Linked DNA regions of Homo sapiens: region 2 is linked to region 1. A link means that fine-mapping ties the variant in region 1 to the expression of a gene that starts in the linked region. Tissue or cell type: lung. Region 1 holds a variant in brackets; the other region holds the start of a gene. All regions are shown on one strand. Distances are between the middles of the regions. Region 1 overlaps NOL10 (nucleolar protein 10). Region 2 holds the start of NOL10 (nucleolar protein 10).

What was found. PIP is the estimated chance that this variant, and not a neighbour inherited with it, causes the effect.
Region 2: NOL10 starts here. The variant in region 1 is fine-mapped to the expression of NOL10 in lung (TOPMed, PIP 0.95).

What each region holds. Positions count from the first base shown.
Region 1 is chr2:10,652,448-10,655,354 of GRCh38, forward strand. NOL10 (nucleolar protein 10) reads right to left here. Exons shown (of 21, transcript NM_024894.4): 12 at 2,034-2,100. Among named protein-coding and RNA genes, the nearest start is that of NOL10, 36 kb to the right of the region's middle. RefSeq lists an enhancer at 1,509-2,708. The variant G/A (reference allele first, on the strand shown) is at 1,359.
Region 2 is chr2:10,688,782-10,691,688 of GRCh38, forward strand. NOL10 (nucleolar protein 10) reads right to left here and starts at 1,194. Exons shown (of 21, transcript NM_024894.4): 1 at 1,015-1,194. The coding sequence starts at 1,080. It also overlaps the pseudogene RN7SL832P. RefSeq lists enhancers at 641-700, 761-1,040.

The sequences.
Region 1 (2,907 bases):
TTATAAAATATTAAATAAGTTTGTATTACAGCATCCATCATCCAGATTGATAACAGCAGCATGCAATCAATCTTAGTTCTTTCCTTCCTGCCCCAACTTCTGTAATCCTTAGTAGTTGCTAAGCAGTGCCCACTGAATCTCTTCCATACTTCAAAAACCGTGGGGCCTGGCACTGTCGTTCTGTCCATTCCCATCCGGTTTCTCAGCTGGCTCCTCCCCCTCATTCTCCCAAATGAACCAGCTCCTGCTCACTTCTTATCTCACTCCCAGCTTTCCCTATCAGTAATCTCATTCATTCCCACCACTTCTGGGATAATCGCAAAACTTTCTATCTACAGACCTGCTTACCCCAAGACCACATTTTCTACTGGACGCCAGACACGCCCCCCAAGCACAAGTCTGCGGATCGGTTCAGGGCTTGCCGCCTAAGAATCCACCGGGAAGTGTGTTAAAAACACACGTTTCTGGCCAGGCGCGGCGGCTCACATCTGTAATCTCAGCATTTTGGGAAGTGGAGGCAGGCGGATCACTTGAGGTCAGGAGTTTAAGACCAGCCTGGCCAACATGGCGGAACCCCGTTTCTACTAAAAATACAAAAATCAGCCAGGCGTGGTGGTGCGTGCCTGTAGTCCCATCTACTCAGGAGGCTGAGGCATGAGAATCGCTTGAACCCAGGAGAAGAGGTTGCAATGAGCAGAGATTGTGCCACTGCGCTCCAGCCTGGGTGACAGAGCGAGACTCCAACTCAAAAAAAAAAAAAAAACCACACATTTCTAAGCCCTTTCCATAGACACTATGAGTGAGTACACCTAGTATAAGGTCAAGGGAGCTGTACCTTTAAAGCTGTGCAGATGATTTTGATGGGAAGCCAGATAGTGCCAGATACTGCCACTGTCCTGTCACCTCCTAATCCTCACACGTTAGAAAAAGAAGCCATAATCTTTCCAAACTTGCTCTCTCACCTGTGCTCCCCATCTCAGCTCAGAATATCAGTTACTTCCAAGGCACTTTTGTCCAAAACCAATCTACCCTTTGCACAGTGGGTAGACCTGCCTCTGAAAGCACAGTCGGAACAAGTCCTCTCTGACAGCACACGGAGCCCAAGACATTTAGCACATCATGCCCAACCCTCTACCACCCACCACTCTCTGCCTCCCACTTCAGCCTTCCCAGAGCCACCACAGCTCAGGCACAGGACACTCCTCCCCACCCCAACCGAGCCCTCTGTGCCCATCCTTTTTGGTCATCTTGGACTGCTCTCCCATGAGAATCACCTCAGCCCCCCAACTCCACCTAACCAAATCTCACTCGGCACTCCAGCTCAACGCAAAGCAAAATCTTCTCACTGCTCCGCTCTC[G/A]GTGGTCACAGGGTAAAAGCTCTCTCTCTCCAGCAAGCTGTCAAAGTACTCTTTGCACAAATGTGATAGGAGTTCTCACGCTCTGCCTTACTTCTCTCTATCAAGATGATCTGGGTACCTCTGCCCTCAGAGTAGAAACTATTCTCATTTTTCTCCCATACTCTGAAATTCTTCACAGATTTGCCTTGAATGCACTGTTAAATTTTGAAACCTAACATGTAAATTGCTGAATAGCATACAACTTAGAATTTACAAAACCTATGGCTTCATGAGCCATCTGTGTATTATCAGGCAATCTAGCTTTCTCCAAATCTCTACCCTCAATTTCCACACACTATTACTAATCACATAAAAGAGCTAAAGAGCACACTAAAATAGCACTTCACCTGCCTCCTACCTGTATGCTGTTACCACGTTCCACTAATAGCTGGGCGGGCTGAGCACTGAGTCATTAAGAGTGCCATTTTCTGAATCATCCACACCACTTCCTGCTCTTAATTCTTCTAAGTAAGTTAAATATCCAAGAATTGTGCTGACAAAGCCAAATTCTATCTTAAGAAATAAAATGGGTTTAAAACCTAAAAAAGTATAGCCTTTTTATTTGTCTCACTGAACGTTCACTACAGAATGCATCTTTTTATTTGTCTCACTGAACGTTCACTACAGAATGCATACCTGAGTTGGGGTAGAGACAAACATCATTAAGGTCATGCTCTGGCTCCAAGGAAGTAAATATTTTTCCCTAAAAATAGCAAGCAAAAACGAAGTATTAAAAGTTAAAGAACAACAACTTTGGCAATGTCAAACTGAAGCTGTAACTCAACCATCTACTCCTATGTAAAGAAATAAAATAGCCTACTTCAAATACAAAATTTAAATTCTTAAAAATCTTAGAGAATTTATCTTATCAATTTATCAAAAAATCCCATTTTATAGATGAAGAAACAGGCCTAAGGAGAAGAAGTGACCTGTCCAAAAAAAAGAAAAATTACAACATTTTAAAGATAATGTCAACATGGCAAGAAAAGATGAAGTTTGAATTATGCATCAACTTTAAAAAAAAATCTCTCATAATCTGTGAAGTGTACCCAGCTTAACTTGTATTGAAAGAAATCGGAAGACAGCTGGGAGCAGTGGCTCACACCTGTAATACCAGCACTTTGGGAGGCTGAGGCGTGGAGATGACTTGAGGTCAGGAGTTTAAGACCAGCCTGACCAACATGGTGAAACTCCGACTCTACTAAAAACACAAAAATTAGCCGGGCATCGTGGCCTGCAACTGTAATCCCAGCTACTAGGGAGGCTGAGGCAAAACTGCTTGAACCCAGGAGGCGGAGGTTATAGTCAGCCAAGATAGCACCACTGCACTCCAGCCTGGGGCGACAGAGTGAGATTCTGCCCAAAAAAAAAAAGAAAGAAAGGAAGAAAAGAAAGGAAGGAAGGAAGAAAGGAAAGAAAAGAAGGGAAAGAAGGGAAGAAAAGAAAAAGGAAAGGAAAGGAAAGGAAAAAAGAAAAGAAAACAAACCAATCAGAGGAGAGAGATGGCCAG
Region 2 (2,907 bases), 36 kb after region 1:
ACATGTGGAGAATGAATGAACAAAATGAGAAAGCTCATGGGGTGTGAAGAACAACTGGAAGACAGGGAATTATTCAAACCAGAATTTTAGGAAGAAAGGAAAAACCTAAGCACTGGCTCCAAATTTTTGTAGAAGCAGACGCATGGAAGGAGAGCTATATTTATTCTGTTTTCCAAGGGCAGGACTCAGGCCAACAGTGGCATGCTATAAGGTGACATATTTGAAAACCACTTTCTAACAAGTGCAGAGTCTCAAAATGGAAATGAGCTTCCACAAAAGGTAGTGCTCAGTGGTAGTGCTTGGACAGAGGCTGGATCATCACGTATAAGAAACAAAAGACAAGTTTCAGAGCCTAAGTGTGTCATGCTGGACAAGTCACCCTTCCCCTTGCTGGATCTCAGCTGCATATTAAACGCATTATTAAATCTCAGCTGCATTACTAAACACGAGAAGATTGGAAGAGAATTACCGACTTGTCCAAGCCCTCTCCAACTTTAAGACTAGGAATCAGGTTAAGTTCAACAAGTCTCGAAAATACTGTCCTCTACACCATAAATTCTGCAGATGCGAAGTCTGTATCTCCCTTGTTCACTGTTGTATCCCTAAGACCTGGCAAATGATAGGGACTCCACAAACAGCTGATGGCCATATGGGGGAGAGATGTGTCAACGAATCTGCCACGTTTTCCTCCTCGATGTACGGCAGGGACTGTGAACACCCAAAGAGGCCCAAATGGTTGCGTTCTCTGGAACAGAGAACTTTACAAAAGTTCCAGCAAAGCTCACTGACCCTGATTATCCCTTGGTCCAGTTTCTGGCGCGGTGACGGCAGTGTCCTTGTCTCCCAATGCCGACACCTCCCCCGGAAATTGTCAGCCGCCTCTGGGCCTCCCCGAGTCGGGGGGTGACCAGCGTCCAGCTAAAACAGAGGCTAGGGCCGAGGAGAGGGGCGGCTGCCCCACGAGGAGGACGACCCCCAAGAGCTCGAGAGTGAGGGGGCCGGGAAGTGACTCACCTCAGGAAGGGACTTGCCGCAGCTGAGGCTGTAAATCTTCACCTCATTGAGGCTGGAGACCTGCATGGCGCCGCACAACACTGTTCAAGTCCCGGGTCCTTTCCCACCAGCGTGCTCGAGCACCGTAATCCCGGGACCTCCGAGCCCCTGCTCCGCGGCGTGCGGCCGCTGGCGCCGACTGATGACGCACTTCCTGGAGCCGGAACACGCGGGCAAGTTCCCGGAAGAGGGAAGGTGGCTGAATCCGGGAAGAGCGGCGGCCGGGAGAAAAACTAGTGAGGCTCTGACAACCCGGCGTGGCTGTCGGCGACGCTGCTACGGGCAAGACTAGACACAAGCCGGGCGCGGTGGCTCACGCCTGTAATCCCAGCACTTTGGGAGGCTGAGGCGGGCGGATCACCTGAGGTCGGGAGTTCGAGACCAGCCTGACCAATATGGTGAAACCCCGTCTCTACTAAAAATACAAAAAAATTAGCCTTGCGTGGTGGCCGGCATCTGTAGTCCCAGCTACACGGGAGGTTGAGGCAGGAGAATTGCTTGAACCTGGGAGGCGGAGGTTGCAGTGAGCTGAGATCGCGCCGCTGCACTCCAGCCTGGGGGACAGAGCGAGATTCCCTCTCAAAAAAAAAAAAAAAAAAAAAAAAACTAGACACAGCTCTCCCTGCTGTTAGCATCCCGAGCGGCAGGAGGAGGCTTTCGAGTCTCTGCCCAGGCCGAGATGTCATCCTCCCGGGCGGGGGCGAGGCAGTTCAGCGAGTGAACCCAGCGAATGAAGGCGACCAGGGTGCGAATTCCGAGTGGAAGTGTATTCTCTTCTCTCCTCCAGTGTTTCTGCGATGTTACGTTAGAAGTACTGTAGGCCGGGTGCGGTGGCTCACGCCTGTAATCCTAACACTTTGGGAGGCCGAGGCGGGCGGATCACCTGAGGTCAGGAGTTCAAGACCAGCCTAGCCAAGATGGTGAAACCCCGTCTCTACTAAAAATACAAAAATCAGTCGGGCCTGGTGGCGCGCGCCTGTAATCTCAGCTACTCTGAAGGCTGAGGTGGGGGAATCGCCTGAACCCGGGAGGCAGAGGTTGCCGTCAGCTGAGATCGTGCCACTGCAGTCCAGCCTGGGCAACAGAGTGAGACTCCGTCTCAAAAAAAAAAAAAAAAAAAAAAGAAGACTGTGGCGTCATCTTCAACCCATTCCTATCTCTGGCCCTCACTTTCAGTATCTAAACCTGGATATTTCTAATTATGAAATATTTCCTTAAAGTAATCTGTTTTCATTCCTCCTGCTGAAACTCAAATACTTAACTATTTTTGGATTATAACTTTCCCAAGTGATCTTCTTACTTCCTTTGATTTAATGAACAAATTATTTTATGCCTTACTTTCTAAAACCCAAATATTATTGTTTTGCTCTCCTACCCACAACATTTTGGAAACTCTCAAATACCAACACCACATTGCATCAGAATTAGGTTGAGAGTTCTTCGTGGACCCTATATCATTTGTCCTTATATTCCCTATCCACCCCATCCACCCCTACCCAGAGTACCAGAACAGTGCCTGGCCTCTATTAGGCATTGCTACATATTTACATTTAGCCATGTACGTAGGGATATATTCCTTAACTCTGTCCTCAAATTTAAGATCCTCCACAAATTTTTAATTTTCTACACTGGTTACAGTTAAGAAAAACTGTAAACATCTTTGGGAAAGGTGGCATAATAGAATGGTTAGATCACAGACTCTGGCTTGGCTTGGTGGTGCAGGCCTATTGTCCTAGCTACTAGTGAAGCCGAAGCAGGAGAATCACTTGAGCCCAGGAGTTCTTGGCTGTAGCACGCAACGAGCGTTGGGTGTCCTCAGTTTGGCATCAATATGGTGACCCCACAAGAGCCAGG